Linked DNA regions of Homo sapiens. Changing the gene in region 1 together with any one later gene gives a genetic interaction. Each region holds a gene or a part of one and is shown on either strand. Other genes may lie near its edges.

The links.
Region 2: changes in TBC1D31 (region 1) and ZNHIT6 together harm fitness less than expected from each alone (positive genetic interaction), as found in Homo sapiens cells (one large-scale study listed by BioGRID).

The regions. Positions count from the first base shown.
Region 1 is NC_000008.11:123,149,061-123,152,852, reverse strand, and holds the end of TBC1D31 (TBC1 domain family member 31), read right to left. Parts: intron 2,818-3,792; coding exon 2,725-2,817; intron 1,048-2,724; coding exon 914-1,047; 3' UTR 700-913; downstream 1-699. UniProt on the Homo sapiens protein: Molecular adapter which is involved in cilium biogenesis. Part of a functional complex including OFD1 a centriolar protein involved in cilium assembly.
Region 2 is NC_000001.11:85,705,430-85,709,974, reverse strand, and holds the start of ZNHIT6 (box C/D snoRNA protein 1), read left to right. Parts: upstream 1-1,541; 5' UTR 1,542-1,690; coding exon 1,691-2,346; intron 2,347-3,467; coding exon 3,468-3,533; intron 3,534-3,619; coding exon 3,620-3,726; intron 3,727-3,811; coding exon 3,812-3,897; intron 3,898-4,545. UniProt on the Homo sapiens protein: Required for box C/D snoRNAs accumulation involved in snoRNA processing, snoRNA transport to the nucleolus and ribosome biogenesis.

The DNA.
Region 1 (3,792 bases):
GTTGCCCAGGCTGGAGTGCGGTGGCGTGATCTCGGCTCACTGCAACCTCCGCCTCCTGGGTTCAAGTGATTCCCCTCCCCCTGCCTTCCAAGTAGCTGGGATTACAGGCATGTGCCACCACACTCGGCTAATTTTTCTATTTTTAGTAGAGAAAGGGTTTCACCATGTTGGCCAGGCTGGTCTCGAACTCCTGACCTCAAGTGATCCACCCACCGCAGCCTCCCAAAGTGCTGGGATTACAGGTGTGAGCCACCACGTCTGGCCTGCCTGATCTTACTGAATCGTCATATCAAGTATTTCTACCCTCCTTTTAGAGAGTAAGGTTCAGGAAGTCACAAGCAGCCCCACTCTGGAGCTAGGAAGTGGAGGGAGGGAGGAAGAGCAGTCGGTGCTGCCAGAAGAAGCAGGCAGAGGGCAGAAGGAGCTGGGCAGAGATGAGATGTTACAAGTCCGGTGGGGTCCCTGACAAAGAGGGGGTCCCGCTGGCAGAGGCGGGGGTGGGCAGGAAGATGGTGATATAGGCCACTCCACGCTGCTGGCGCTCTCCACCTGCTGCTGAGTTCTCCCTCAGTCCAGGCTATAGAGCTGTTGAGATGGTTTCCTGTTCTTTATTTCTCTATTCATCTTTAAGATAAACCTTTATCAACTAAAGTTACTGAGGTTTATGCTGGTCCCTGCAACCTGAAAGCTTAACACAGCTTTAACAGTTTCTAAAACATTTTTATTGTAAAAAGTTCAAGAAGCCATTTACAAGCCAAAAAGTATCAGAATTAAATAACACATAATTTTTATAGACACATTTTTCTGTACAAAGGGCTGATCTTTATAGGAATTTTAAATAAATAATCTAAAAATCAATGTCACTGATTGCAAAATAGGTCTCTCTCTCGACCGTCTCAAGGTGACATGCATTCTATGCAGCCAAAAGATGAGGGGTTTGACATCTGTGACGAGCCCGGGCAGTGAGTCTCTGGCGAAGATTTCTCACTTTCTTAATAAGATTCTGTCCCGTGGTGTCCCATTCTACTGCTCTTCTATTTAAAGAAACTTGAAAACGAAATTTAAAATTTAGAAAAGCTGAGTTTTCTGATGTTAGCGGTGATACAGCATTTATTTTAAAGATAAATGTGTTGTAAAAACAAATAATGAAATGCAATTCTAAAACCTAAATTTTACATATAACCTGGCCCTAGGTGGTTCCATTTACAAGCCAAATAATTATTTGTTGGACTGAATGAATGCTAACAGAGAACTTCTCTGCTTTGAAATACTTGGGATACAAACAATCTTAAGTTAGAAACAAAGCTTGTTAATTTAAGAGAGAATTTGAGTTTGTGCAACTGTAAGCTTCCTCACAATGATGCTTAATAGTAATGAGAAAAGGCATTCCAAGTCATAAAACTGTGAAATATACACCATGATTACCTTTCCAATAAATAAATAAAAATAAGTAAATCAAATGCTTTTTAATATTGGCTAATATCAGGAAGGTCCAGAATCAAGATTAAAATACTACAACATGTCCAAGTGTAAGAGCGTTACTGATTTAGAGGGGCTAGTGAACACTGAAATTTTTTTTAAAAGCCCTTAAAAATATACTTCTCTGAAATTTAGTTACATATTCAAATAGTCAGTCAGCTTCAATTTCTGAAAAACTGTTTTTCCTCCCAAAGAAATACAACTTTCATGCTTTTGTATTTTGCTGCCAAATAACCATTTGATATGTCAGAATAGAGAGTAGCTGAGAATCTCTCATACTTCATCTGACTCTTGAATGATTTTTGGTTTAATTCATATTCTGGCACAGAATTTATAGATGCATATAAAAATGTGAGTTAGCAAAAATATTTTACACAATACTGGAATCTCATGACTTGGTATTAGGCATATTTCTTATAAAGCTCGTCTTTTTGGGACATTGTATAAAAGTTTGTTCTTCCAAAAGAAGTCAAAAGATCTTGTTAAATACTGCTTCATCTATATGGCAATTTTATTGAAAAAAAATAGTTGAAAGTAAGTTTAACAGAGTGTCTTTTCTCCTCCTCCCTTTTAAAAATAAATAATATACTTTACTGGGAAGATTGTTAGCTTCTTTATGGATGGCCTAATGCTGTGATTACATTTCTGTAAGATGTTTCTACCCTGTCCCTTCTAAAAAACCCCAAACCCTCCAATGAACCACGTCCAGGGATCAAAAGTCAGCTCATCAGCATGAAGCCATTTGCCTTTGGCCATTCTACTGCTGCTGGGGCCCAGAATTCCATCGGAGTGCCCAGGGCAGACACATGTTTTCAATGGTTGTTGGAGGGAGCCCAGCCCAAATGAACAGAGTCAAGAAAATTCAACTATGCAATAGCTTTGAAAAACAACGCTGAGATTTTTTTTCACAAGGATGTCAAAATAGTTATGAATTTCATATTATCAACCTAGTTAGAGACTTCTGTTAGAACCTCCAACTATGTTTTTGGGCAGCAGTGCTGGTGCTCAAGAACTGGAGTGGCTTTAGTGGATTCAGCACATTTTCTTTACTTGGAATTTGGTCTGCACCCAGTTCTCCCACTGAGGAATCTGAGAGAATCTTGCTGCCTCCCTTTTAGGATTTCCATTATCAGTGCCCTGGGAAAATGGCGTCCACATGCTATAAATATAATTTAAGCCACAATTTTGCTTAAATATTGTGAAATTTAAAATGGCAGAATAACATTTTCTTGCTTATCAACTTACTCTGTGTTGAGGGATCCATTTCAGAAGAGTCATTTAATTGTGAGGTTCTAGGCAAACAGCTTGAGTCCTGTTCATTTTGGAACCTGGGTTCTTCTGTTATAAAAGTGAGGAGATTAAGATGATGTTTGGGAGTGAGTAGAAAGGCTTACTAATTCCAAATGGTCCCTAGTAAGTTACAATCACCAAGGATGGCTAAAAACTCCTTTCTTTTCTATTTTAAGAAGAATGCGGTCAACATTCAAAAGGCAAGGAAGTGTCATTAGTGAGAATTAAGAGCTGAGCTGATTTCTGTAAAACGTACTTTAAAAACACTTTCAGCTAAAACAAAAAGCCAACAAACTCAAAAATATGGATATTAAGATAGAGATTACGAAATGTGATCAGCAAGGCTTCCCTGGAAACTATTATGAGCTGATCACTACTGGTTTTAGCTAGGCAGGGCCTCATCACAACATACAGCAAATCAGAGCCAGCCATAGGCAAGTTTTACCCGAACCCTTCTTAGAGTAGCAGGCAGGGCAGTGCCCTAGCAACTAGTGGTGCCTCCCCTACTTTTATCAATTACTCTCCTCATCTCAAAACTTACACTCACCCTCAGCTGTGTTTTCACTGTTCCCTAACTCCTACAGCAGCACATCCAGTATGACACCAAGGTGTTTTTAAAAACATTTGCATCCTGACATGGCTTATAATGGTCCCTTCCTTTCTACTCCCACCGCTAGCATCTAAGCTCCATGTGTCGAGCCCAGAATGCTGGGAGTCTCATTAAATCGGTAAGATGTCTGCCTTTTACCTCTCTGAAAAGCTTTAGCTAATGGTTTTACCTCATAGTTTTAGCTCAATGAGTCATTAAAGTAATGTGACTAATCACCAATGACTAATTTGAACTGGTGGGGGACTGGAATCTAAGAGTCATCTTCAAACATCTGAAGGGCGGGACATGGCGGAGGTAGTAAACGTAATCTGCAATCTGCACTGTTCCAGAGAACGGTTTCTGCGGACAGAACTCAGCGGAAAAAGAAAAACAGAAAAGAAAAAGCAGATTGAACTATTTTACTAAGAAATAAC
Region 2 (4,545 bases), on another chromosome or scaffold:
AAGAACTACTACAATTTGATAATAAAAGACGTCAATTAAAAATGGGCAAAAGATCTGAATAAACATTTCATTAAAGAAAATATCCAAATGGCCAGTTGGCAGATGAAAAGATGTTCAACATCATTAGTCATTAAAGAAATGTAAATTCTCAATGACGTACCCCTACACATCTATAATCAAATAACTGATAATACTAAGAATTGGCCGGGATGTAGAGAAATAGGAACCCTCAGCCAGTAGGAATGTAAAATGGTATAGCTACTTTGGAAAACAGTTTGGGCATTTCTTTAAAAATTAACATAAATTTATATGGCCCAGCAATTCCACTCCTAGTTATTTACTTAACGGGAAATGTAAACATGTCCACACAAAGACTTGCATATGAATGTGGAAGCAGAATTATTCGTAATAGCCCAAACTGGAAACAAGCCAAATGCCCACCAACTGGTACATGCATGAAAAAACGTGCCACATTCATACAATGCAATGTTATTCAGCAATACCGGGCATTAGGCACTTTCGCCTAATATATTTATGATGTTCTCTGAGAGAATCCTGCAGAATGCTGGGAATGGGGAATAGCCTGACGCAGGCTGTTACTTAGAAAGAATGGAAAGAAAAATTAATGCCCTCTTTCCTACTTGAAACCCATCATGATTCCCAGTTATACACTGAGTTTGTGTCTGTCACTGACAGTTGATTCCTATGCATGATCTCATATTATCTTCGCAATGACACTGGGAGATTTATATTAATAATACCATGCTCCCTAGTTTATAGCTTCAAGAAACTAAAGCTTGCAAAGGTGTAACATCAGGTGTGTCCTTTTTCATACAAGATTGGATTTAATGGTTAACACAGATAAGGGTGGGTTTTCCCATTTCCAGAGTGTAAGGGTTTCGCTTCTCTCCCTCTGCCGGTCTCCTCCACTGTTTACACCCAGTAGGGCGTGGAGGGTGGCCTAGGGTGTGGCCCAGGAGGCTTCCCTAAGGGAAGGGGGTGGTGGAAACCAGGCGGTTTGAAGCCCATCAGGATTCCCAGTTATATATCGAGTTTGTGTCCGTCACTGCTAGTTGATTTCCATGCATGATCTCATATAATCTTTGCAATGACACTGGGAGATTTATATTAATAATACCATGGTCCCTAGTTTATAGCTTTAAGAAACTAAAGCTTGGAAAGGCCTAATAACATCAGGTGTGTCCTCCATTTTCATGCAAGATTGGATTTAATGGTTAACACAGATTAGGGTGGGTTTTCCCACTTCCAGAGTGTAAGGGTTTCGCTTCTCTCCCTCTGCCGGTCTCCTACACTCTTTACACCCAGCAGGGCGTGGAGGGTGGCCCAGGGAGTGGCCCAGGAGGCTTCTCTAAGGGAAGAGGGTGGTGGAAACCAGGAAGGAGACGAGAACCCCAGCGGGCAAGTCACGCAGTTACGCTTGTTCGCCCAGAGAATCCGGCAGGGCCTCCGCAGAGCCGTAAAGAGCTCTACAAGTCGTGAAGGGGCGAGGCGCAAAAGCGTAGCTTTACGGCGATTCGAGCAGTCGCGTCAAGCAGGCTATTCCGGGTTTGTGGCTGCTTGGCTCCACACGTGGGCCGCCGTAGGTATTCCGACCGGTAATTCCTCCTATTGGTGTGCAGCAGCCACATTGAAGGATAGAGTGGCAGCAGAGGCCAAGGATCGTGAGTTGATGGAGTTTGCTGCTGAAAATGAAGGGAAGTCTGGGGGAGGTCTCCACAGCGTAGCTGAGGGGGTGCGGCTAAGTCCAGAGCCTGGCAGGGAGGGAGTAAGGGACTTAGCAGGGGCGGAGGAGTTCGGCGGCGGAGAGGAGGGGACAGGGCTGACAGGGATAAAGGAGATAGGGGATGGAGAGGAAGGAAGTGGACAAAGGCCAGAGGAAATACCGATGGACCTAACGGTAGTGAAGCAGGAAATTATAGACTGGCCAGGTACAGAAGGCAGGTTGGCTGGCCAGTGGGTAGAACAGGAGGTGGAGGATAGGCCTGAGGTGAAGGATGAGAACGCAGGCGTATTGGAGGTGAAGCAGGAGACGGATAGTAGTTTAGTGGTAAAAGAAGCGAAGGTGGGTGAACCAGAGGTAAAGGAAGAGAAGGTAAAGGAAGAGGTAATGGACTGGTCAGAAGTGAAGGAAGAGAAGGATAACTTGGAGATAAAACAGGAGGAGAAGTTTGTTGGTCAATGCATAAAAGAGGAATTGATGCATGGAGAGTGTGTAAAAGAAGAGAAGGATTTCCTGAAGAAAGAAATCGTGGATGATACAAAGGTGAAAGAAGAGCCTCCGATAAATCACCCGGTGGGCTGCAAGCGGAAACTGGCCATGTCAAGGTAGGGCATGGGGGATTCCATTTAGGGGAATAAAGCTGTGGAGTCCTCATGTCTAGAGTGAAGGAAACCACACTATCAGGAGAAGGTGGAATAATGAAAAATGAGCACAAGTTTGGGTTTCTGGAGTCAGACGGCGTTCGCGGGGGTGGGTTGGGAAGTGGAGGGTGTTGTACATGACAACACAACAAATTCAGTGAAAATACATGAAATTAGTAGTGTCCAATGGGTAATGGTCAAGTTAGGAAAGTGGAAATTCTGGGGACCAAAAGATCAGTTGGAACTGGATCTGGCTTGACTTAATATGCTCTTTACTCGGTATTCCTTTGAGAGAGAATAGAGATGAGAAAGTCTAATAAAACTAACAATGACAAAGTAGATTAAGTTAAAACTAGGCAAAAATACACTTGACCTCAATTATCAAGCTTCTTCATGGGTGCTGTGAATATTTATTGCTTTTGATTGAATTTCCTTAGTGTGTGGATCATGTGACAAAGGAAATAAGAGTAGTCAGATTCTTGAGAATATTCCCGTCTAGAACACAGTGGGCTAAATAGAAGTAACTGTAGTTTGGTTGTCAGTATCCCAGGAGCATAGAAGAGCAGTTGAGGACAGATGATGGGTTACATGGCATTTCTAGATTATTTCGATGCTCATTCTAGATTAGGCGTGGAGTTCAGGAAAAAGGGTGCTACTACTACTCTCTAAATTTCACTTGGCCTTATATTCTTTGTCTGGTGTGTGCTTTAAAAATATCTAAACATAGCTCATGAATTGGACTTCTGGATACACACACATACAATCATTACCACATTTCCAGGAATCACAAGTTAAAATATCAGTGAATAATCTCATTCCCTGATTATAGTAGAAAAAGAAGTCAAAAGCGAGATGGGTTTTAAAAATTTTAATACATTTTCCTGAGTTACATATCACTAACAACATTGGAAATGTAGTTGTTTTGGGAAGGTTTCATAGAGAAGAATTTTCAAATGATGTTCAACAGCTATCAAATATTTTATCAGTTACTTGTCACTGAGTTTATAAATTGATTGGGAATTCTAAGTTTATAAATAAATACAATTAATATTTGATAATTTAATGTTACATGTGGGCTTTTGTAGGTGTGAGACTTGTGGTACAGAAGAAGCAAAGTACAGATGTCCACGTTGTATGCGATATTCCTGCAGGTATACATGTAACTTCCTACCTTTTAACCTGTATCTGTACCTTTCTTACCCTAAAATATAAAAGTACTTCCCCTTTGTCTTTTCAGTTTGCCCTGTGTAAAGAAACACAAAGCAGAACTGACATGTAATGGAGTTCGAGATAAAACTGCATACATTTCAATACAACAGTTTACTGAAATGAATCTCCTAAGTGGTAAGCCACTTTATGCATAGCAAATTGAGGCTTCCTGGCCATTGGTATATGTCACTTGTTTATTCTTCTGTTTTGAAATTTTTAGATTATCGATTTTTGGAAGATGTGGCAAGAACAGCGGACCATATTTCTAGAGATGCTTTTTTGAAGAGACCAATAAGCAATAAATATGTAAGATTTTTTCCTAATTTCTTCCAGTTAGAAGTCCTTCAAATCAATTAGATTCTTTTTTTTTTTTTAACTTACCAAATATATTAAGTGGCTACCATGATGTAGAGCTATTCTGATTACTTAAGGATATGGCTGTGACCCAAACAAAGTCCGTCCCCTCGTGGAGTTGTATTTAGTGGGAGATATAGGAGATAAGTAGAGGAACAAATGTAATTTCAGATAGAGTTAAGTTCATATAGAAAATAAAGAAGGCTCAAGAGATTAAAGAGAGAATGAAAATGGTCTTTGTTGGGGAGAGATTGTCAGGGTACTATTTTCGATACAGTGGTCAGGAGAAGCTTCTCAAAGAGATGATGTGTAAGCAGTGATCTGAGTGCTGAGAAAGAGGCTGTCATGTGAACATTTGGAGGCAGATTATCCCAGGTAGGGACAAAAGTAAAAGGAAAGACCTGAGTCAGAAACAAGGATGTCTGGTTTGAGGAATTAAAAGATTTGCAAGGTAACTGAAGCATAGTGAGTGAGGAGGAGAGTATTGAAAATGAAGTTAGAGAAACTGGTGAGGAGTTGGGTGCAGTGGCTCATGCCTGTAATCCAAACACTTTGGGAGGCTGAGGCCAGAGCATTCCTTGAGCTCAGGAGTTCAAGACC